Linked DNA regions of Homo sapiens. The protein of the gene in region 2 interacts with the protein of the main gene of each other region in a pairwise test. Each region holds a gene or a part of one and is shown on either strand. Other genes may lie near its edges.

Region 1 (2,552 bases), on a different chromosome or scaffold from region 2:
TGGCATCCCACACACCAGTCTGATGCCACATCTGTTCTCTTACCAACCACTGGCACCTGCATCCCTTATGCCAACAGTGCCGTGCCACTATGTTCACCCATTTTCTGTAATTATGTGGCAAATACGTTCCCTTCATCTGGAACTCTGAAGCCACTTAAGATGCAACACAGATTCCCGGTGGGCTACTAAACAGACTGCCCAGTGTAGACTCCATAATGAGTGTGGTTTCCAACAATTTTTGCATGGATTCTGAAAAATCACTATGTATTGAAAATTTATGTTCATAAGTCATTTTTCATGAACACTGATAGTTCAGCAATAACTGATTTTCACAAAGTAGATGCAGGGTTTTCAGTCACTAAATGAATTCAACAAAATGTTTACTGTGCAATACAAAGGTGATGCACGCTAATATTCTCAGAGAAATTATAGGAAACTGAGTAGCTTGAATTTGGACCAAAAATGTCAGAAAAAAGGTATTCAAGTGGAAAAAAATCCAGTGAACTCTAATAGATGGTTTATTGGAAACGCTCATAGCATCTTTTGAAAAGAACTTGACAGGTTTTATTTTAATAAGACATAGTGAAGAGGAAATGGCTTAAAAGATATCATCAATCTTTTATTTAACTAAGCACTGCCCTTCATTTTGAAGGAAATGATACAATTTCAAATCGGAACTTCCTTCTCAAGAAGTGATATAAGAATGTAACATTGATTTAACATACAACCTTCAACAAAAATAAAGTTTATACAACTCACTGGGAAATAAAATGCATGTGGAATTTATCCTGTTTGTCAACATAATTCTTCATGAGTCACAAGTATTATAGCCAAGAACAAAACAACAAAAAGCTGAATCAGTTGATAGTTACTCTGATTTAAAAAACATTTCACAAATAAGATGTAGCTTTCCAAACAAATCCATTCGATGACCATTATCACAACTATATTTTATTCTAATTTATAAAACAAAAAATGGTTAGACAAGCACATGATATCAAGAGTCTTCAACACAGTGGATTCCATTTTATTAAGAAAAAAAATAGAAAACAAGTAGTCCTTAAATTGTCTTAGCTCTCCATAGCATACGTTATATAAAATTAAAGTTTTGCTTCCAAAAATATGTTTCCATGTGGTCGTGGTGTTGTCCAGTGCTATTAGGGCCAAAGCACCAAAGACATGAGAAGTTTAACCATCGACTTGTCATTTTTCATAAAAACTAAACATTTCCTTATAGGTCTGGAGTAAAATCTTCTAGGCATTTTAGTGCTAAAAGTCACTTTAAATTAAATGTGAAATAAAAGCTACAAAAAGTATGAGTTCTTTCAATACAAAAAGTTGTGTAGCTGAAGTTGTGGGCTCCTTTGACATACATAAGCAGTTTCAATAAAATATTTGCTCAGGTAAGAAAATAGAAATTTGTCTGCTTTCATTTAGCATACGTTCCAGTCGATGTCCTGCTTATCCCTGCCAGAACTTCTGAAGAACATTAGAATCGATATTTCTTTCCTTCAAAGAGCATCCGTAATTCACAGTACAAAACAGTTCTACAGTCTTATTCCTAAGGAGAAACAAAAATTATTAAATATGTTTATTTTTTCTAAAGTGTCAAATGTAGCCACTGCCAGGGCATTAAAAACTCACTTATCCACAACACTGCCGTCTTCAGGAAAGAACCAAGAGTTGATTCATTCCCCTTTCCTGGAGCTGTTACTAGTTGGTTGTTGCTTTAAGTGTAATAACCCTAAGAAAATTCCCAATAAAAATCACTGTTCTTAAGTGTCACATATTTCACACCTCTGGTACCCTGTAGAAACGCTTGTATTACATGGGAAAGCAGCATCTGAAAAGATCTATTTCCTATTCTAGTTCATTTCCAAGCCCTGTTATTGAAAACCTCTTCTCTAGAAGAGAGAGTCACTGCTCTCTCTTAACACAGTCGCTGCTATACTTCAGCGTGACTGACCATACATCATTTTCCATTCTGGGACAGAGGAAGAAGACGGGTGGGGGAGTTGATCTGGCTAGCCCAGAGCTGGACAGTGCCATTCTATTCTTCCCTCCCACTTGTCTACACGGTGGTTATTACTACTTGCTCTGCTGCCCAGGCTGGAGTGCAGTGGTGCGATCTCGGCTCACTGCAACCTCTGCTTCCCAGCTTCAAGCAATTCTTCTGCCTCAGGCTCCCAAGTAGCAGGCATTACAGGCGCCTGCCACCACGCCCAGCTAATTTTCTGTATTTGTGGTAGAGACAGGGTTTCGCCATGTTGGCCAGGCTGGTCTCGAACTCCTAACTTCAGGTGATCTACCTGCCTCAGCCTCCCAAAGTGCTGGGATTACAGGCATGAGCCACTGTGCCCGGCCTACCTTCTATTTTCACTACTGTGTTAAGCATGAAAGAAAATCCAACTGGGTTAGATACAGCAGGTTCTCCTAAATGTCTTAACCCATGTTTATCTTGTTCTGCTATTCCATGAGCAAAGAGAATAAACACAAAGCTGTGAGAGTATTAAATATGGACACTAGATTTACATTTCCAACAAGAAATTCAT
Region 2 (7,038 bases):
ACATTAGCCGGGTGTGGTGGTACCTGCCTATAGTCCCAGCCAATTGGTAGGCTGAGGCCAGAGAATAGCTTGTGCCAGGGAGGTAGAGGTTGCAGTGAGCCATGATCATGCCACTGCACTCCAGCCTGAGCAACAGAATGAGACCCTGTCTCAAAAAAAAAGAAGAATAAAAAAGATCCTTTCAGACAAGCAAATGCTGAGGGAATTTGTTTACCAGCAGACCTGCTGTACAAGAGCTCCTGAAAGAAGTACTAAATATGAAAAGAAGGCCGGGTGTGGTGGCTCATGCCTGTAATCCCAGCACTTTGGGAGGCTGAGGCAGGCGAATCACCTGAGGTGTGGAGTTCGACACCAGTCTGGCCAACATGGTGTAACTCCATATCTACTAAAAATACAAAAATTAGCCGGTCATGGTGGTGGGTACCTGTAATCCCAGCTACTCGGGAGGCTAAGGCAGGAGAATTGCTTGAGCCAGGGAGGCAGAGGTTGCAGTGAGCAGAGATCATGCCATTGCACTCCAGCCTGGGTGACAGGGCAAGACTCCATCTCAAAAAAAAAAAAAGGCCGGGTGCAGTGGCTCACGCCTGTAATCCCAGCACTTTGGGAGGCCAAGGCAGGTGGATCACGAGGTCAGGTCAGGAGATCGAGACCATCCTGGCTAACATGGTGAAACTCTGTCTCTACTAAAAATACCAAAAAAAAATTAGCTGGGCATGGTGGCATACGCCTGTAGTCCCAGCTACTCGGGAGGCTGAGGCAGGAGAATCACTTGAACCTGGGAGGCAGAGGTTGCAGTGAGCCAAGATCACGCCATGGCACTCCAGCCTGGGCTACCCAGTGAGACTTTGTCTCAAAAAAAAAAAAAAGAAAAAGGAAAGAAAAGGCCATTACTAGCCACTACAAAAACACATTTAAGTACACAGACAAGTAACACTATAAAGCAACCACACAAACAAGTCAGCATAATAAACAGCTAACAACACAATGACAGGATCAAATACATGCATATCAATACTAACCTTGAATGTAAATGGGCTAAATGCCCCAATTAAAAGGCATAGAGTGGCAAGAGCTGGATAAAGAAATAAGACCAAATGATATGCTCCCTTTAAGACACCATTCTTGGCTGGGTGCAGTGGCTCATGCCTGTAATATCCCAGCACTTTGGGAGGCCGAGGCGAGTGGATCACTTGAGGTCAGGAGTTCGAGACCAGCCTGGCCAACATGGTGAAACCTCGTCTCTACTAAAAATAGAAAACCGCCAGGCGTGGTGGCGCGTGCCTGTAATCCCAACTATTTGGGAGGCTGAGGCAGGAGAATTGCTTGAACCTGGGGGACAGAGGTTGCAGTGAGCCGAGATTGCGCCACTGCACTCCAGCCTGGGCAACACAGCAAGACTCTGTCTCAAAAGAAAAAAAAAAGACCCATCTCAGATGCAATAACACCCACAGACTCAAAATGAAGAAATGGAGAAAAATCTACCAAGCAAATAGAAAACAGACAAAAGCAGAGTTGCAATCTTAATTTCAGACAAAACAGACTTTAAGCCAACAAAGATCAAAAAAAGACAAAGAAGTGCATTGCATAATGGTAAGGTATTCAATTCAACAAGATCTAACTAACCTAAATAAATATGCAGCCAACAGCAGCACTCAGATTCATAAAGCAAGTTCTTAGAGACCTACAAAGAGACTTAGACTCCCACACAATAACAGTGGGAGATTTCAACACCCCACTGACAGTATTAGACAGATCACTGGGGCAGAAAATTATCAAAGATATCCAGGACCTTAACTCAGCACTGGATCAACTGGACCTGATAGATATCTACAGAACTCTCCACCCAAAAACGAGAGAATATATCTCATCTGTACATGGTACATACTCTAAAAACCACCACACAATTGGACATAAAATAATCCTCAGCAGATGCAAAAGAACCAAAAGCATACCAGCCACTCTCTCAGACCACAAATCAATAAAAATAGAATTCAAAACTAAGAAAATCACTCAAACCCATACAATTACATGGAAATTAAACAACCTGCTCCCAAATTACTTTTGGGTAAATAATGAAATTAAGGCAGAAGTCAAGAAATTATTTGAAACAAATAAGAACAAAGATACAACAGACCAGAATCTCTGGGACACGGCTAGGGCAGTGTTAAGAGAAATTTACAGCACTACATGCCCACATCAAAAAGTTAGAAAGATCTCAAATTAACAACCTAACATCACAACTAAAAGAACTCACGAAGCAAAAGCCTCCAACTCCAAAGCTAGCAGAAGACAAGAAATAACCAAAGTCACAGCTGAACTCTAGAAGACTGAGACACAAAAACACCATTCAAAACATCAAGTAAGCCAGGAGCTGGTGTTTTAAAAGAATGAATAAGATAGATAGGCTGCTAGCTAGACTATTAAGAAAAGAGAGAAAACCCAAATAAACACAATTAGAAATGACAAAGGGGATATTACCATTGACCCCACAGAACTACAAATAACCCTTAGAGACTATTATTAACACTTCTATGCACACTAACTAGAAAATCTAGAAGAAATGGATAATCTCCCGGACACATATACCCTTCCAAGATGGAACCAGGGAGAAACTGAATCCCTGAACAGACCAATAATGAGCTCCAAAATTGCATCAGTAATAAATAGCCTAACAACCAAAAAAAACCTGGACCAGACGGACTCACAGCTGAATTCTATCAGACGTACAAAGAAGAGCTGGTACCATTCCTACTGAAATGATTCCAAAAAAACGGAGGAGGAGGGACTCCTCCCCTACTCATTCTATGAGGCCAGCATCATCCTGATACCAAAACCTGGCAGAGATACAACAAAAAAAGAAAACTTCAGGCCAATATCCTTGATGAACATTGATGCAAAAATCCTCAACAAAATACTAGTAAACTGAATCCAGCAGTACATCAAAAAGCTAATCCGCCACAATCAAGAAGGCTTTTATCCCTGGGATGCAAGGTTGGTTCAATACATGCAAATCAATAAACATGATTCATCACATAAATAGAACTAAAGACAGAAACTACATGATCATCTCAATAGGTGCAGAAAAGGCTTTTGATAAAATTCAACATCTCTTCATGTTAAAAACTCTCAACAAACTGGAGTTTTTTGGTTTTGTTTTTTGTTTTTTTTTGAAACAGGGTCTTGCTCTGTCGCCCAGGCTGGAGTGCGGTGGCACAATCTGGACTCACTGCAACCTCTACCTCTGGGGCTCAAGTGATCCTCCCACCTCAGCCACCCGAGTAGCTGGGATTACAGGCGCGCATCACCACGCCCGGCTAATTTTCCTATTTTTAGTAGAGCGGGAGCTACCATGCCCAGCCAACTAACTAGGTTTTGAAGGAACATACCTAAAATAATAAGAGCCATCTATGACAAATCCATAGCCAACATCATACTGAATGGGCAAAAGCTGAAAGCGTTCCCCCTGAAAACTGGCACAAGACAAAGATGCCCTCTCTCACCACTCCTATTCAATATAGTATTGGGGGCTGGGCATGGTGGCCGACGCCTGTAATCCCAACACTTAGGGAGGCCGAGGAAGGCAGATCACCTGAGGTCAGGAGTTCGATACCACCCTGACCAACATAGTGAAACCCTGTCTCGACTAAAAATACAAAAATTAGCCGGGCATGGTGGCATGCGTCTGTAATCCCAGCTACTTGGGAGGCTGAGGCTGGAGAAGCACTTGAAGCCCGGAGGTGGAGGTTGCACTGAGCCAAGCATGCCACTTGTACTACAGCCTGGGCTACAAAGTGAGACTCTGTCGAAAAAAAAAAAACACTGCTAAGAGAATAAAAAGATAAGCTACAGACTGGGGGAAAATACTTGCAAATCACCTATCTGACAGAGGACTTCTATCTGGAACACACAAAGAACTATCAAGGCTCAACTATATGAAAATAACCCAATTTAAAAATGCTAAAAAGATGCACAGAGACATTTCTCCAAAGAGGATATACAGATGACAAAGAAACATGTAAAGCAATGCTCAACATTATTAGCCATTAAGAAAATGGAATAGGCCAGGCGTGGTAGCTCACACCTGTAATCCCAGCACTTTGGGAGGCAGAGGCGGGTGGATCATCTGAGGTCAGGAGTTCGAGACCAGCCTGGCCAACATGGTGAAACCCCGTCTCTAGTAAAAATACAAAAATGAGCCAGGCCTGGTGGTGGGTGCCTGTAATCCCAGCTACTCGGGAGGCTGAGGCAGGAGAATCGCTTAAGCCTGGGAGGCAGAGGTTGCAGTGAATGGAGATAGTGCCATTGCACTCCAGCCTGGGCGACAAGAGCGAGACTGTGTCTCAAAAACAAAAACAAAAACAAAACACAAAACTGTGCTGACATACTACTACATACCTATTAGGATGACAAAAATAAAACTACTGACAAAGGATGTGGGGTCATCACAACCCTCATCTGTTGCTGGCGAGAATGCAAAACAGCAATGGTTTGGCAGTTTCTTATAAAGGTAAACATACACTTACCGTGTGACCCAGCCATCCCACTCCTGGGTATTTACCCTAGAGAGATGAAAACTTATGTCCACACATAAACCTGGACACGACATGTTTCTAGCAACTCTATTGACAATTGCCAAAGATTGGAAAACCACCCAAATGTCCTTCTGTGGTTCAGAACAGAAAATAAATATAAATAAATATAAAAGGGAACAGACTTTTGATATGCAAAACAATTGGATTTGGATGAATCGCAAAGAATTAGAATGAGTTAAAGCAGCCAGACTCGAGAGCTCATGACTGTATGACGCCATTCATACGACAATCTCAGAAAGACAGCTGCGGTGACATATGATGCCACTCGTGTGACAATCACAACACGATGAAGACTCCAGTGATGGAGAACAGTTCAATGGTGGCCAGGAAATGGGGAAGAGGGGAGCATGGAGCTACAAAGGGGCAACATGAGGAGGTTTTGAGGTTCTGTGTCCTGGGTGTGGTGATGGGTACACAAATCTGTACAAGCGCTAAAATTCATTTTCAAAACGTCAACTTTCCTCATAATTAAAAAACCAAAAGAAAAAAATATACAAAACAGTAACACTGAACGCAAAATCAAAACCCAAACAACAACCACCACCAAAAAAACAAGCTGCAGGAGAACCACATCTTATGATCTCAGGTTTATAGAAAAATCAATATACTTGTTTCTGTCTGTCTACAGAATGAGGCCCGAGAGGGTGACGGTGAATAAATCCTAATCTTTCTGATTATAGGAGCCCTTTAGTTTCTTTTTTTTTTTTCTGTGCATGGTGACTGATAAGAGCCCTTCACTTTCTAACCTCATACCCTGCTTCTAATTTTTAAAAATAATGTGCATGTATGGATTCTCAGTCAGCATAAATGCTAATAAAGAAAACAAGCTTTAGCCGAGCGTGGTGGCGGGTGCCTATAATCCCGGCTACACGGGAGGCTGAGGCAGGAGAATCGCCTGAACCTGGGAGGCGGAGGTTGCAGTGAGCCGAGATCGTGTCACCACACTCTAGCCTGGGCGACAGAATGAGATTCCGTCTCAAAAAAAAAAGATAAGACAAACTCACATTTCAATGAGTGGCCCAAACTGAATCCTGCTATCTGTTACCACACAGAACGGCTCTCGGGGCTTTGCCAGTTTTAAAATGCTGTGTTTATTTCTATCGTGGAAGAGATAAAACCCTACAGAAGAAGGAAAGAAAAGAGGCCTACCAAGAGGTTGACAGACTCGATGACGTCCAAGAACACCTCATTCTTCCGATACTTGATGCCTTCGGACCGCCAGGACACCGCGTTGGTGACGGTGGCTGGTGGCCGCGGGGCCCCTGTTTCCAGCTTGTGGCCTTCCTGAGTGATGTACCTGTGGGGCCACACGCTCAGAGTGAAGGAGGTGGTACCCGCACCAACGCCACAGCTTCTGGCCTTGACATTTCGGCAGGGTTGGGTGGGGGGTACAGGGCAGGTTCTGACCGACTTGAAAATAGCCCTTGGATTTCAGCAGCTCCAGAAAAGGCAGCCTCTGGTTCACCTGGGGCTGCTTCATACAGAAAAATCTTCACAATTTCCAAAAGCCAATACACTCAAGTTATAGAGGCTGAAGTGCTCATTTTGGGGGACCAAGAAGACCATGTTGGGAAGGAAAACAAGAAGTGGGTGTGAGCTGCTTCCCGTCCCTGCTGAGCACGTGGATGGAACTGACGCCTCGGAGTGTAACCTGGTGACCCCATCCTGCTGAAGGAGCAGGAGGTGCAGCGGTTAGGAACACAGGCTTCTCTGGGAGTCTGCTTGCTTGTCCCCTGTAAAATGGGGAGACGGTATACGGGGAGGCTGTGAATCGAGTGAATGTGAAGTGCTGGGGCCCGGCCCCCAGGAAGCACTTAATTCACATTGCTTCTTATCTGAAGGGCAGGATTCCAAAGAGGGGAGATTTCGATCACAGTCTCATTTTATGACAGTAAAAACAAGGGAGGTGACTCCTTAGTAGCAAGGTACTGAAGGCATCTGTGTGGATGGAGAGTAAAGATGAGGAGCAGGAAAAGCACGGTTATGTGGGGGCGTAGAGGAGGAAACGAATTAAAACCACTAAGAGCAACTTAGTAAAAACCCGAATACTGCTGGAGGTGGGAGGCAGGTGGGGGACAACATGAACACAAATTTGCCCCTTCTGTTTCCACACCTGATGACGTCGATGTCATGACACCGCCCAGGCCTGGCCCCAGGCCCCACCCCTGCCCACTCACTCCTGCAGGATCTTGCTGTCGGTGGTCTGGGGGTAGCCGAAGTCCATGAGCTCGTCCAGCAGCTCGTAGATGATAACAAAGTTGTCCCGGATGCTCTCCTCCTCCAGCTCCTTGAAGTACTCGGAAAACACCTGTGGCGGTTGGGGAGGGAGGGAGGAATGGGAGGCAGATCATTGAGCGGACGGATGAGGAATGAATGAACGCTTGCACACATTCATTTGCCCGCTAAGTCCTACCAACAGCCTACTTCCCAGGCTCGGTGGTGTGCT
Region 3 (7,136 bases), on a different chromosome or scaffold from region 2:
AGTCAGCTTGAAATGGTTCCTACTGACCAAATCTGGGACAATTTGGTCATTAAAAAGAAAGACGACTGTAACTGGTTATAAAACAAGGAATAAATTAAAACCCATGAGAGTCTGAAGTGGTATCATTCACCCCTGCCCCAAAAAACATCATTGGGGGTGGCTATTTCTCCAGCTCTTTACTATGAATATTGAAAAGTAAAGAGATTAAATTTAACATTTAATTTGCATTTTGGGGAAGAACAATAGTTTACCTGCACTTAATGAAGGAAATCTCTTCCTTACAGAGAACCTCCAATAACTGATTTAAGCAAAAGTCATCATGGGTGCTAAAAACCACTAAGCAAAAGATTGTCAGAAACTGGGTATTTGCTTAGTGTCCAAGTTTTACCCCAAGATTACATATTAATCACAAACTGGCAAACCACACCTTTACAACAGATCAGTAGTCAGCACTTTAATCAAATGGTTACATTTAGCATCATTAATAGTGTGGGAATCTGACATTGTGTGCCTCCTATATTATGCAACAGGAGGTACACAGCATCACCTATTAAATATTCTTGCCAAAGGAAGTTTTACTTTAAGCTAATTAAGCCTTCCTTTACACCTAACTTCCAGTTAATAGGAAATTCAGGGAGAAAGAGGAATAAACGAAATGACATTAGGAGGGCACAAATCCAGAATGTGGGTATATTTTACAAGACAACTGGTTTGGTCAATTACGTGTCAGAAAAAAAGAAGGGAGGGAATATTCATCCTATTTAATTTCCCCTGCAAAAAGAAGAGGGGATGGATACTCTTCATTTTACAAAATGACTAAAGACTTAATCACCAAATGCAATCAATGCATGAATCTTGACTGACTACAACTGGGGGCAGAACCCTCAAAGACACTTTGGAACAACTGAGGAATTTTGAAGATGGAGTTGTTAATTTTGATAGGCATTAATAATGATACTGGGGTTAGTAGGAGAATGTCCCTATTTTTAGGAAACACATGCCGAAATATTTGAGGATTACAGTGTTTGCAGCTTACTTTCAAATAATTACACACATACAGAGAAAGACAGGAAACAATATGGCAAAAATGCTAATCACTGAGTTGGTTATTCATTGCATTGATTAGCATTTTTATTCATTGCATGAATAACCGATCACAATTGTATAGAACGAACCTCTATACGACTAAAATTTTTCATAACAAAGTTAATAAAATTGTACTTCTATTGAGAAGTACGGTAGAAAGTACACGAAAGTACATCTATACTGGAATTATATTTGGGTTGAAATCTAAACTATCTTACTAGTTGTGTGCCCTAAGGCAAGTTGTAATTCTTCGTATCACTAAGTTTGTCACTTCTATAAAATTCAAGTAATAATATCTGCATCATTAGGTTGTTCTGAGAATTAAATAATTACAAATGCAAAAATGCCAAGCAGTACTGCACAAAATGAATAATCTGGTTTTCATAATTAATCAGTACATTACTAATAATCCTAAAATACAAAACTAAAGGACTACGTTCATTATATTCACATTCTATGATAAGGGGAAACTACATTAGGTAAAATTATTATTAATCCACTGACAGTCCAAGTGAAGTAATGGGGGAAATGAAGATTTATACAGTATTTTTTAAACCCAAGAATTCCAACTGAACACCTAGAGAAAAGGAAATCAAAATCGTGCAGCTTGCTTCCGGTATCAGCCGATCTCCAAATAAAGCATTAAGAAAATAAGTGGAAGTTATGGAGAATTTCTTCCTGACTTCAAGAGATTATCTACTTACACGCTGAAAAAGAAATTAAGTTTTTGTCTTCATTTTTGTAAGTTCCAAAAAAAAGCACACAATTACGGGGTTTTATTGTAAATTCTGCTTGGATTCATAGAACTCACATGGACGCAATTTCCTTTTAATCAGTTCTAACGTACCTGTCATTTCTCGAGGTAACCCCTTTTTCTGATTAGGCCAGCAATAAAACGACTAGATGCAGAGTGATCCTCAGGAAGGAAAGGAAAAGAGGTGTGTGTGTGTGTGTATGTGTGTGTGTGTTTGTGTGTGTGTATATATATATATATATATTTTTTTAAAGAAGTGCCATCTTTTTCTTTCTGTACCAGAGAAAAAGCAGAAGGGGAAAGGAGGAAAAAAAACAGGTCTGAGCCTCCCGGGTTCGACCAGGTGAGAGGTGGCAACACTCCGGCCGCTCCGGGTTAGGGTGTTGGGCAAATGGGCGTGCAAAGGACGGGCAGCTCCCTGGAAGGTCGGGGTAACTGCTCCGGGACCGCGGGGCCCAAGGCCGGTCTCCTCCCAGAAGGATTAAATGCCACCGAGGGGATCCCGTGGGGTGTCTCCCGGCGCGGACTAGGCTGACAGACCCGGCTCTCCGCTCCCTTCGGCGCCAGGTGGGGGCCACGCGGTGTCAGCCACGGGCAGCGTGCAGGGGCCGTCCCCCGCGCGACCGGAGCCCGCCCTCCCCTCCCCGTTACCTGCGGGCGGCGGCGCCGGGCCCGGAGGCCTGCTGCTCCTCCTCCTTCTCCCGCCAGGCTGGGGCGGCGAGGCGGCGGCGGCGGCGGCCCGGGGGGAGGGGGCGGAGCGCGGCTCGCTGCCTCTCTCCTCCCCCGGGAGGCTCAGGGGCCCCTATCTCGGGCCGCCGCGCCTAGGCCCGTGAGCAGCCTGTGGTGGGGCATGGCGGCACAGCCACCGGCGTGCCCGCGAGTGGGAGTGCGAGGAGGCGGGGAGGGAAGCACCCCCAGCGCTCGGAGGGGCCAGAGGGGAGGAGCGAGGGGGCCCGGGAGCCGCGCGCTGGCGACCGTTGGGGACGGTTGGCCGAGGGCAGGCGGTTGTTTGGGGAGCGCGGCGACGGCTCGCGTGTTCCCAGCGGGGCGGGGTGGGGAAGGGGAAGGGGACTGAGGGGAGGGGAGGGGGAGGTTGGGAGGGAGCCGCCGCCGCGCGCGTGCGGCCGGCGCCGCCGCCGTTGCCGCTCCGCTCACTCCAGCCTGTTTGGGGGCACTTTGTTTGTGTCCCACAATGCTCTGCGCCGGCGGCCTGGCTGGGGAAGGGGAGGAGAAGGGGGCGGGGCGGAGCGCGCTCGGGGGCGGGGCTCGGGGCGGGGAAGGAAACGTGATGATTGCGCAAGCGCAGAAAATGGGCCCTCTTGGCCGTCGGGACTTGTACTGTTGGTGACTCCGTCTCCTTAGACGGTGGAGCCTGCGTGACCCAGAAAGGCCGTGAGTCTTGACACTGTATTTTTGCATATGTGCGCACATGTGCCGATTTACATTCACATGCCCCATAAGCCCTGTCCCATTTGTCCTTCCTCTAAGCCGTCCTCTTACCCAGTTCCCCTCTCACACCTGAGAAGCATTTCTCCGCAGGAGTCACATTTATAGCATTATTTTTTTCTTCGAACTAAAAACATAACTCCTATTTTCTCGGGTAGTTTTTGTAGGGAGGTCGAAATAGAAACACTTCAGCCCCTCTTCGGCGAGGGAGGTTAGTTGGTAAGGTGCCCATTGTTCACCCATGGAAACAGGCCTGCCAAGGGCCGCCCCGCAGACAGGTGAGCCCGCGCCCCCGTCCTGGGCGGACTGCGACATGCGGCGGGTGTCTGGATTGCGTGGCTCCTCGGGCCTCCTCGCAGTGCTTGCTCTCTTCCGTTCTAGCACTTGCCTCGGTGACCTGGCAGGACGTGCGGTTCTTGAGATGAGTGGAGAAACGGACTCCCAGGTCCCTCTCGTTCTTCCAACACAGGGACAGCTAGAGCTGCTCCAAAAATATACCCTACTTCTTCCACAACCGTGAATCTGTCATTTTTACTGCACCATCACTTACTTCCTGGCCTTCCCGGAGGAAGTGTGCGGGCCTCCCCGAAGTAACCGGTACCGCCCGGGGGGTTTTGAAGTTCTTGGTCAACTGCAAAATCAATCAACCTAGTTAACTCCTAGGGCCCTAAGTCTTGGCTTCCCCTGGCCAGGCGGGCGAGCGCTCTCCACACCGCCCCCGGAGGTCATAGGGGTTCCCGGGACTGCAGGCGGCAGCGCCCCAGGTGCCTGGGGGCGGGCGGGGTGCGGGCAGGTGCTCCTTGGGCGCTTTCTGTTTTCCCACGCCTCCAGTTTGCAAACCGAAAGACTTCTTTCCAGAGGGTTTTGTGCAAGGTGGGTGGACGTCCCGCTGAAGTAGAGTGGATTTTCCTTTTGAAACACTTGGCAACATCTCACATTAATTCACTCTGAGAGACAAGCAGCCAAGCACCTGAACACCCTGACACTTGCAATCTTCTTTAGGAATAAAGGCAATAAAAACAACTTCTGTTTTTATAGTCCTTCGCAGTTTCCAACAAGTTTTCAAGCATGTATAATGTTATCTAATCCTTACGGCAACTGTAATTCACAGGTTTTATCACAGGTTTCTATTATTATTCCCACTATCATTCTTATTATTCCCATTTCAGAGATGAGAAAAATCAGAAAGATGCGAACTAGGCCCAGAAACTTTTGCACTAAGTTTTGAAGAGGGGAAGGGAAAGAAGGCGGAATGCTTACCTGGGAGAGGACTGGCGGCCACAGAGCAGGGCTCAGGAAAGGGCATGAGCTGGGGCCCTGGTGAGGAATGTGTGAGAATGTATGTAGGTGGTAAGCAACTGGACAAGAATCAGGGTGGAAATGAAGTAGTCAAATCCTATCTACCTCTCCTAGTGCCTTTAACAGGATAGTCAATAAAAGACCATGAGGCAAGTCTTTTCTAAGTGCTTCTCCAGGGGCTGTGGTGGCAGCTCCTCAACTACTACACTGACACAAAAATTTGCTTTCCTTTGTAGTACAACTTGAAGTCAGGTAGAGGAATGCCTCTAGCTTTGTTATTTTTGCTCAGAATTGCCCTAGCTTTTCAGGGTCTTTTGTGGTTCCATACAAATTTTAGGATTTTTTTTTCTAGTTCTGTGATGAGTGTCATTGATATTTTGGTAGGGATTGTACTGTACCTGTAGGTGGCTTTGGGTAGTGTGGATATTTTAACAATATTAATTCTTTCAATTCATGAGCGTGAGATATCTTTCCTTTTTTTTTTTTTTTTTTTTTTGTTCTCTTCATTTTCTTTCATCAATGTGTACACTTTTCCGGGTAGAGATTTTTCACTTCCTTGCTTACATTTATTGCTAGGTATTTTATTTTGCTTTTTTGTAGCTATTGTGAATGAGATTGTTTTCTTGATTTCTTTTTCAGATTGATGGCTGTTAGCATATAGAAAATCAACTGTGCTGGGTGTGGTGGCTCACGCCTGTAATCCCAACACTTTGGGAGTCCAAGGCAGGCAGATCACGAGGTCAGGAGTTCAAGACCAGCCTGGCCAACATAGTGAAACCCCATCTCTACTAAAAATACAAAAAAGTTAGCTGGGAATGGTGGCACGCGCCCGTAGTCCCAGCTACTTGGGAGGCTGAGGTGGGGAATCACTTGAACCCAGGGGGTGGAGGTTACAGTGAGTCGAGATCGTGCCACTCCAGCCTGGCGACAGAGCAAGACTCCATCTCCAAAAAAAAAGAAAAGAAAAGAAAATCAATTGATTTTTGTATCCTTCAACTTAACTGAATTCGTTCATCAAAGTTCTGAGAGATGGAGTCTTTAGGTTTTTCTAAATATAAGAACAAGTCATCTGCAAACAAGGATAATTTGACTTCTTCCTTTCCAATTCAGTTGCCCTTTATTTCTTTCTCTTGCCTAATTGCTCAGGTGAGGACTTCCAGAAATATATTGAATAGGAGTGGTGAAAGTGGGTATCCTTGTCTTGTTCCAGATCTTAGTGGAAAGGCTTTCAATGTTTTCCTGTTCAGTGTGATATTAGCTGCGGGTTTGTCATATATGGCTTTTATCATTTAAAAACTTTTCTTCCCTTAGATTATTCCCTTGTCTCCTCTGCCTTTTCCACTTAAAAAATTTTTTTTTGGAGACAGGCTCTCATTGTGTTGTCCAAGAGTGCAGTGGTGCAATCACAGCTAAATACAGTCTCAAACTCCTGGGCACAAGCGTCCTCTGGCCTCAGCTTTCCAAATAGCTAGGACTACAAGTGCGCCACTGTGCCTGGCTAATTTTAAAAATTTTTTGTAGAGATGGGTCTTGCTATGTGAACTTGGGCTCAAGTGATCCTCCTGAAGTGCTGGGATTACAGGCATAAGCTACCATACCTGAGCCCTTTCCTGCTTTTCTTTCTCATTTAACATTTAAATATTTTATCATCCTTCCACTCCACCCCCACCTCAGGTCTGAAGAATTTATTAACGAACAAATGACCGTGAGGCCCTTCAGAGCTCAATGCTAGATGCTTGGAGAGGGTGTGAGAAAATCTCAAAGAAGATTAACTTTGCAGGAGCCCTCTTGTCTGCTTTGGCTCTGGGCAGGGTCAGTTTCTGTGGCTTCTGCAGCCTCCCACCTTTTTCCTTCTTGAGCTGGTAGAGACTTGCCTCTGGGTTGCTGGAATATACACACCTTTCTTTGACACTAGGTTAAATAATACTGCTGGGAGGATTTTGTGAAATCAGAATCCTGTACACAGGTGAAAAAAACAAATGTAGACAGTATGAGGAACCTTTAATTATTAACTTGGTGTGGATGATTCTGAGGAATTCAAATTCCAGGCAAATTCCAGGAGTTATATTTCAGCCACGAGCTCTTTGGGGGAATAAATTCTGCAAAAGATGGCACTTCCTTGTGGAAGACCATTATAACTGAATGGAAACTTAGTTATTTAGTCCAAAAGCATTAGCATTAAGGCATGAATCCTTTCTACCCGACCTTGCCTCCTTATTAGATTAGATTATACAACTACATATATAAAAAATTAATCTCACTCTCTTACCCTAAAATTTATACCTCTTCTAGTGTTCACATTTTACCATTCACCCAGTGAAGCAGGGTGACTTTGCTACTTTACTACTGTATCTCAATTCCAATCCATCAACAAGTCCTGTTGAATGTGTCCCTCTCCACTGCCACCGTCCTAAAATAAGATGATACTAGCTTGTGCCTGGAGAATTATAATACCACTCACGTGGTTTCCCAAATGCACTCTCCCTTTTCCTCATTCTCTACATGGTCGCCAGAGTTGCAATGCATAGCAGTGATGTCAGCCAACAATGGC
Region 4 (7,607 bases), on a different chromosome or scaffold from region 2:
CCAGGCTGGTCTAGAACTTCTGGCCTCAAGCGATCTTCCCACCTCTACCTCCCAAAATGCTGGGATTATAGGCGTGAGCCACAGAGCCCAGCCTAGTTATAATAATGTTAATACTAAGCATTCGTTTAGCAAAAATTGCTATGATGGAACTATACTGGAAGATTGGAAACAAGAAGGGTAGGTAAAGAACTAAATCCTTACTGTGACAAGAAGTTAAGAGGTATGTCTAAGATGTTGAATTGATGTAAACAGTATAAATATACAATTTAGGAATATACAGTTGGTGGGCGCAGCGGCTCACGCCTATAATCCCAGCACTTTGGGAGGCTGAGGTGGGCAGACCACTATGTCAAGAGATCGAGACCATCCTGGCCAACATGGTGAAGCCCCATCTCTACTAAAAATATAAAAATTAGCTGGGCATGGTGATGCACACCTGTAGTCCCAGGTACTTGGGAGGCAGAGACAGGAGAATCGCTTGAACCCAGGAAGTGGAGGCTGCAGTGAGCCAAGATTGCACCACTGCACTCCAGCCTGGGTGACAGAGCGAGACTCCATCTCAAAAAAAAAAAACAAAAACCAAACAGTTAAATCCCAGAAGTAAAACCTAAAAGTTTACACAGAGAAGCCTGGTTTGGGAGGGGGAAGAGGGACACAGGGAATATGAGTGGTTACTGAGGAGTTGGGCAGCCTATTGCTATTTTTTGGTAGCACTTTTAGTACTATTTGAATTTTAAAACTACATATTACTGTGGTATAAATACAATTTAAAGCTCAAACAAGATTCTGAACTGGCCAAAGCAAATGTCTCAACGGCTCATTCAGTTTTAAATCTCAGAAACTGGAAAAATCCCACCAGTCAATCAGACACCTGGGTTCAGCTCTAGATTTGCTGGTTAACTAACTGGTCAATGTATGCTTGATCACATGACTTAACCACTGTTCCTCCATTTTTTCATCTGTAAAAGTAGGTTATAATCTCTCTCATCTGTGAAAAAGCTCTCTGAGCTACAAATAAGTGGAATTAACCATCCTCTAGCATTCTATAGCTAAATATATTGAGGGCTGGGCAGGGCCAGGCATTCTGATGCTTACGCTAGGGGAAGATCTTTGAACACCTGACTTCCCTGGGAGACCAAGAGCGCCACACAGTGACTTGAAAGGGCCAGGACTGCCCTGTAACATGGATGCCCACAATGCAGGGTCTCTATCCTGCATCCCCTGCCCTGCTAAGGGGAAAAGTCGTTCAGAGCGGGCCACACTGGAAAAAGAGCAGGCCAGGTCCCAACATAGGAATTTATCTCACATCAAACCTCCCAGAAGGTTAATTATAAAAAGGATTTTAATTCTTTGAGGAACTTTTCTTATATGAATTATGTTTTTTAAAAGTAGACAAATTAAACTCTACTTGAGCAAAGAACTGTTTTCAAAGAGGGCACCCCCATAACCAGAATAGGTCCAGAGCAATTCTCAGGCTGCCACCTGGTGGGATAACATTTATGGACAGGAAAAGGAAAGTGATGTACAGAAAAGCAAATGAGGTAGAGAAATAGCTGGATTCCATACAGCCTGGCGTTTGCCTTCTTTGAACAGGGTTTCAAAGGCTGACCACCTGTGACGGCCTGAAAATCAGCTGCTGTGATTGTCTGAGACTCAGGTACTTATAACAGTAGGTTACAGTCTGTTTACACATCTACTTAGGTTACAGTTCACTAAGTACAGAGAAACTTTTAGGCTAAACTTAAAATATTCAAGGAGGCAGCGTTAGGCTATACTTAACACCTACTTAGCACAGGTAACTAGAAGTGGCTAAAACAGAAACGAATTCTTGAATAACTGAGTGAATGCCACACTTAGAAAAGGTTGTTTTATGCAGCTAATTATAGAATCACGGACAAGAACTGAAAGAGTTGCTGCCTGAACTTTCCACTCGAGGTCTGTGTTAGAATTTAGGAAACGCCACCCTGATAAATGACTGCAAAAGACAAGAATGCACCATCCCCAAACATGCCACCCTGGCATATTGATGACTTTGAGCTATAAGTAACAGAACCAAACAACACAGGATAACTTATTCAGCTACCCCTCAACTGCCTAAAATAAAGTATGACTGCTTTTTTTCCTTTTGTTCTTATTATTTTTCGACTCGCCTGTTGTAAACAGAAATTTACACCTATAAAGGAAATTTTCTGTAGTAAATGTATCTGTATCAGGAAGACAGCTGCTTGGGGGCAACTTTTATCGCCTGAGCGCCTCATCGGGATAACAAAGCAACCTTTATTCACCATACATTTCCCCCATCACCCTTCCAAAAGGTCTCCACCACGCCCCAAAAGGCCCACGCCCCTATTCCCTGGCCCTTCTTTGTCTCCCACTTTTGTGGCCCTCTAGTGCACGGGTACATAATTAAAAGTTTTTCTCCTGTTAATCTGTCTTATGACAATTTAATTTGTGGCCCAGCTTAAGAACTTAGAAGGGTAGAGGGAAACCATATTTCCTTCCCCTACATTTGAATCTTCTTTACACCACACTCTCCCGGGTCATTTGGACTCTCCTGGAACCCCCTGGAGCTAGGGAAGCGCAGGGCCTCCCAAGTCAGATTCTGCTTGGTGCCGAGCGGCAGTTGGCTCCCTGAACGCCCCGCCAGGAGGATGGACTTCAAGTCCTTGACCGCGGCGCCCGACATCGGTCGCCCGCACCAGGCTCCTGCCGGGCCCAGCCCCCCTGCCTGCTCGCGGGGGCTCGGAGGACCCGGCCTAGCGCCCACCGCGGCGTCCCGCGCCCCGGGCCCCTGGCTTCAGAAGACTGGCCGCGCGCGGACGGCAGCTCGGGACTCACAAGGACTCCAGGTGCTTGAGCTGCTGCAGCTGCTGCGCGTCGTGTCGCCGCCGCTTCTGCTCCCGACGTCGCTGCAGCTCCTGCTCCGGCGGCTCACGCGGCCGCCGCGCGCCCGCAGCCCCCACGTCCTCGCGCCCAGGCCGGGACGACATGTCAGCCCCCGCAGCGCCGCTCGGGCAACCCCCGCGGCGCGGCTCCGGCGGCGGCGGCGGCGGCGGCGGCAGCCAAGAGAGCACTTCCTCCGCGCGGCGGTCGCGGGGCTTCGCAGCGCCCCCTCCCGCCGCCGCCCCGCAACTCACCCCGGCGGCCCCGAAGTCTCAGCCTCGGCCACCCGATCCCCGCCTCCCCGCGTCGGGCCCCAAGTCAGGGGCTCCGGGTCTCGGGCCCAGCCGCCAGGCGGGCTGCTGCGGGTGGGTGGGGAGCGCCGCCTAGCTGGAGCCGAAGCGGGGCGAGGCGCTAGTTGGGAGCCTGGAGGTTCCCGCCCGGCCACACCCACCTCAGGTATACTAGCAACAGTCACATAGGGATGAGCAGATGAAATGTATTCATAAAAAAATGTTCAAATTAGCCAGGCGTGGTGGCGGGCGCCAGTAGTCCCAGCTACTTGGGTGGCTGAGGCAGGAGAATTGCTTGAACCCAGGAGGCAGAGGTTGCAGTGAGCCGAGATGGTGCCCCTGCACTCCAGTCTGGGCGAAAAAGCGAGATTGTCTCTCAGAAAAAAAAAAAAAAAAGTGTTCAAAAAGTGAAATGTATAAACATATAATTATGTTCGGTAATAGTGTGCACCCAGCTTTATAACTGCGGTCATCTGATATACCATGAGAGACAACCTAACTCTTTTGACAGGATGGGTCACCATGACGTCACCACTGTGCCAGTCACCCGAGGAGCCAAGATCCTGAGAAATTTCATCTTTCACAAATGCAGATGTACAGAAAAGACACTTATTTATTTATCGAGGAAATTTCTACATTTTTGCATATATGTAGAATGCTTACACAGTCACCATTGTAATAATGAGCTTTGATTGAGTCATATTTGCAAAAAATGCATAAAACAAATTTGAACTCTCTAAAAGTCTTTATATAGTTGATGCCTCCAGTATTAGAAATGATGTTAAGATGTAATACATAGCATAGTGAATTGTAAAACATAATGCTGACAATTTACAATAATGAAAAAGCTAAAAGAGAAAATAGAAAAACGAAAGCAAACTAAAAAGAAAATTCAACATAGAAAAAGTGTATTGCAGGGATAGATTATGGGCAATTGCATGGCGATTGTCCACATGAACTGCCCAACTTTTATGATGATTAACATATTTTGAAGTCTTGCATCATGATGAATAGCTTTTTTTTTTTTCTTTTAGGACATGGCTCTCCTCGATGATACAGTCTCATTAATTTTCTATGTGATACTGCTCTTTCCAAAATTCTTTTTAACTTTTTAAAGTTTTTTATTTTGTAGAGACGGGGTCTCGCTATGCTGCTTAGGCTGGCCTTGAACTCCTGGCCTCAAGCAATCCTCCTGCCATAGCCTCCCAAAACACTGGGATTACAGGTGGGAATCACTGCACCTGACTATGAAATTATTTTGTGATTTGATATTCTCTGACTTCTCTTTGTGCTTTCTTTCTGTTGTACCCTCCTGTCCATGAACCCCTCTGTTTTTCATTTTATTCTTCTGCCCCCTCCTAAGACACCAGAGATTCATTCTTGAGGCCAGTCAAGCAGCCTTGGTGTTGGCCCACTGGTGGGGCAGCTGCAGTTGGTCCTTAGTCTGTGCTACTGGACAGGTTTTAAACCTTTCAGAATGGAGCAACTAAAAAAAGAATAGATTTTCTCCTGCTTGTATTGATCACCCTTCACAGTGTAATCTTGACACCATTGTTTTGCTGCTAAGGTGTATTTTTACAAGCTCTTATCTTACCAGTGACCTTTCCCCACTGGGGAGATGAGGAGAGGAAAAAAGTAGGAGAAGGGAAAGATCACATGGCTAGATTAGAGAGTACAATGCAAAATCTTTCTTTTTTTCCTACCCAAAATACAAGTCTTCAAGGAACTCTCATGGTGAAGTGGACCCTCAGGCGTGCATGTCTATGGTCTTCTGCAGCGCAGTAGAAACATGAGAATCCCTTTGGTCATGCACTAAAAACAGCTGTTAAAATTACTTCTAGGGCCAGGCATGGTGGCTTGTGCCTGTTGTCCTAGGTATTTGTGGAGCTTAGGTGGGAGGATTGCATGAACCCAGGAGGTGGAGGCTACAGTGAGCCATGATCGTGTCACTGCACTCCAGCCTGAGTGACAGAGTGAGCCCCTGTCTCAAAAAAAGAAAAATTATTTCTATCCATCAATAGTTGCTAACCAGTAGGATCGGAGGGAAAATTGCAACGTGCTTTACTTTAGGCTTGCAGGTACGAAAGACTGAGGGAGGAAGGTCAGACACCAAACTTAATTGGTATTCTGGGGCAAATATTTGGCAACTGAGTTGACATTTCTCCTTCTCTTCCTTGCTACCAGCTTTGATTTTGTTCAGGAATCATACAGGAAGCTGGTTAGAGAGTGGAGGCCTCTTCATGCCTCTCTAGAGGTGAGTCTTGACTTGTCTTAAGCCAGTCATTAGTAATTTTGTTCTCGTTTCCACTGATTGTTTTAGCAATGGACCTGTGGTGCAATTTTAGCCAATGAGGTATGAGGAGAGGTCGGATGGAGGTGGCTTTCAGGGTAAGGTTGTCTTTGCTCTTAATAAATGATGCTTGGGAGTGTCAAAGATCCCCTTTCTGCCTCCAGATGTTGTTGCCTGCAACCCCCAGAGGATGGCAGAGGACAGAAGGAGACCCCTGGGTCCTTGGGGATGTGATAGAGACATTTGATCAACCAGTCCTGGTGTTGCTACCTATCCATACTTCTCATTCTGGGAGATAGTACATTTCTTTATTATTGAAGTGATTTTGAGTTGGGTCTTCTATTACTCACAGATAAATATGATTCTTTACATTTATATAGTGCCATGCAGATCTCCCCCTGCCCCCATATGTTCTCCCAGTTGATTTTACAGAAACCCTATGGGGGCATGCAAGACAATGTAAGATAAGGAAATTGAGGCTCAGAAGGAGAGTGTGGCCCTGCAACCAAAATGGTCTGATTTCTAGTCCAGAGTTTTTCATCAACCCTCATGAATTTAGGTGTGTGGGAATAGTGGGAGTGGGAGAATCTCTTGGAAACCCTTGGAGAATCTCTTGGTAAAGAAGAGGATAGGAAGCTGCTGGAAACAAATTTCCCTGATGTCCCATTGGCCTCAAATCGGCTCAGATGGACTTTTGGGGATGTTTTTTCATTCAATTTATTTATTTAATAATTAAAAACAATACAGATGGGGCCCTGCTATGTTGATGGGGGTGAGGAGGTATTTTTCCTCAGCTGGCCTTTTCCCTCCCCTCCCCTCCCCTTCCCTTCATTTTTTTGAGACAGGGTCTCACTCTATTGGCCAGGCTGGAGTGCAGTGGTACGATCTCTGCTCACTGCAACCTCCGCCTCCCAGGTTCAAGGGACTCTCGTGTCTCAGCCTTTCAGGTAGCTGGGACCACAGGCGTGCGCCACCACGCTGGGCTAATTTTTGTATTTTTAGCAGAGACGGGGTTTCACCATGTTGGCCAGGCTAGTCTCGAACTCCTGACCTCAACTGATCTGACTAAGGCTGGTCATTTCTTTAGCCATCCTGTGTGTGCCAAGCAAAAGTTAACAACTGGCATAGCTTAGCCTCCAGGGTTTACTGTTCTCAAAACCACAGTAGTTTTCTGATTCACAAAACTGCCTTTATTTCAGACTCAATGAAAGGTGGAAACCTTTTTTTTAGGGCCTGGCCTTAGTGGATTACGTTGGATTTTACCATTAACACTTGAGGTTCCTGTACTGTCTGAGGGGCATTTGACAGAACCTGGTTTACTGACTTTGATTCAGACCAGTCCTTTTTTCAGATCCCTTTCTCCCCGCTCTTCCATGCTGCTTCCCATGCCCACCTTGGCCTCAGATTTTGCTGTTCCTCTCATTGTGTCCTTCTGTCTGATTTTACCACATTTTCTGGTCCCTGCCTCTGCATTCTCTCACTGATTGTTATCTTGTTTTTCTCTCCCTGCCATCTTTCTCTCTCATTTCCCCTCTTTTTCTTATTCCGATAACCTTTCATTCCTTCTAGTCCCTGTCTCACGTTTGTGTGAAAGTTAGTTATACAAATTGGGTAATTTTTGTCATACTCAAGTAAAAGAGAATCAAGGGGTCAGGGGGGAAAAGCACTTGTGGTCACAGGACCTGCTCCAAGAATTAAATTTTCCAGAAGCCCAGCCGCTAAAATGGACTGCTGTAACTCTAAGATCAGTTTTACCTGGTAGCTGCTGAAACGGCCTGCCCTGGCTCTGCGACTGGTTTTAACTGCTGCAGTCACTCGTCTATCAGAGCTTGCCGGCTCCCAAAAGCTTGTTTAGTGCCAATGAGCTTCCTTCCTTCCTTCCTTCCTGCCTCCCTCCTTCTCTCCCTCTCTCCCTCCCTTTCTCTCTCCTTTCTTTCCTTCCTTTCCTTTTTTTGACAGAGTCTCACTCTGTCACCAGGCTGGAGTGCAGTGGCGCAATCTTGGCTCACTGCAACCTCTGCCTCTTGGGTTAAAGTGATTCTCTTGCCCCAGCCTCCCGAGTAGCTGGGACTACAGGCGCGTGTCACCATGCCCAGCTAATTTTTGTGTTTTTTGTAGAGATGGGGTTTTACCATGTTGGCCAG

What was found.
Region 1: the proteins of AP1M1 (region 2) and LRATD2 interact in binary tests that used the Homo sapiens proteins (3 or more experiments, as listed by UniProt).
Region 3: the proteins of AP1M1 (region 2) and ZBTB44 interact in binary tests that used the Homo sapiens proteins (3 or more experiments, as listed by UniProt).
Region 4: the proteins of AP1M1 (region 2) and RP9 interact in binary tests that used the Homo sapiens proteins (3 or more experiments, as listed by UniProt).

Annotation. Positions count from the first base shown.
Region 1 is NC_000008.11:126,551,943-126,554,494, forward strand, and holds the end of LRATD2 (protein LRATD2), read right to left. Parts: 3' UTR 501-2,552; downstream 1-500.
Region 2 is NC_000019.10:16,207,881-16,214,918, reverse strand, and holds part of AP1M1 (AP-1 complex subunit mu-1), read right to left. Parts: intron 6,901-7,038; coding exon 6,770-6,900; intron 5,890-6,769; coding exon 5,742-5,889; intron 4,560-5,741; coding exon of another isoform or gene 4,524-4,559; intron 1-4,523. UniProt on the Homo sapiens protein: Subunit of clathrin-associated adaptor protein complex 1 that plays a role in protein sorting in the trans-Golgi network (TGN) and endosomes.
Region 3 is NC_000011.10:130,311,884-130,319,019, forward strand, and holds the start of ZBTB44 (zinc finger and BTB domain-containing protein 44), read right to left. Parts: upstream 3,035-7,136; 5' UTR 2,492-3,034; exon of another isoform or gene 1,934-2,491; intron 1-1,933. UniProt on the Homo sapiens protein: May be involved in transcriptional regulation.
Region 4 is NC_000007.14:33,106,383-33,113,989, forward strand, and holds the start of RP9 (retinitis pigmentosa 9 protein), read right to left. Parts: upstream 3,023-7,607; 5' UTR 2,991-3,022; coding exon 2,839-2,990; intron 1-2,838. UniProt on the Homo sapiens protein: Is thought to be a target protein for the PIM1 kinase. May play some roles in B-cell proliferation in association with PIM1.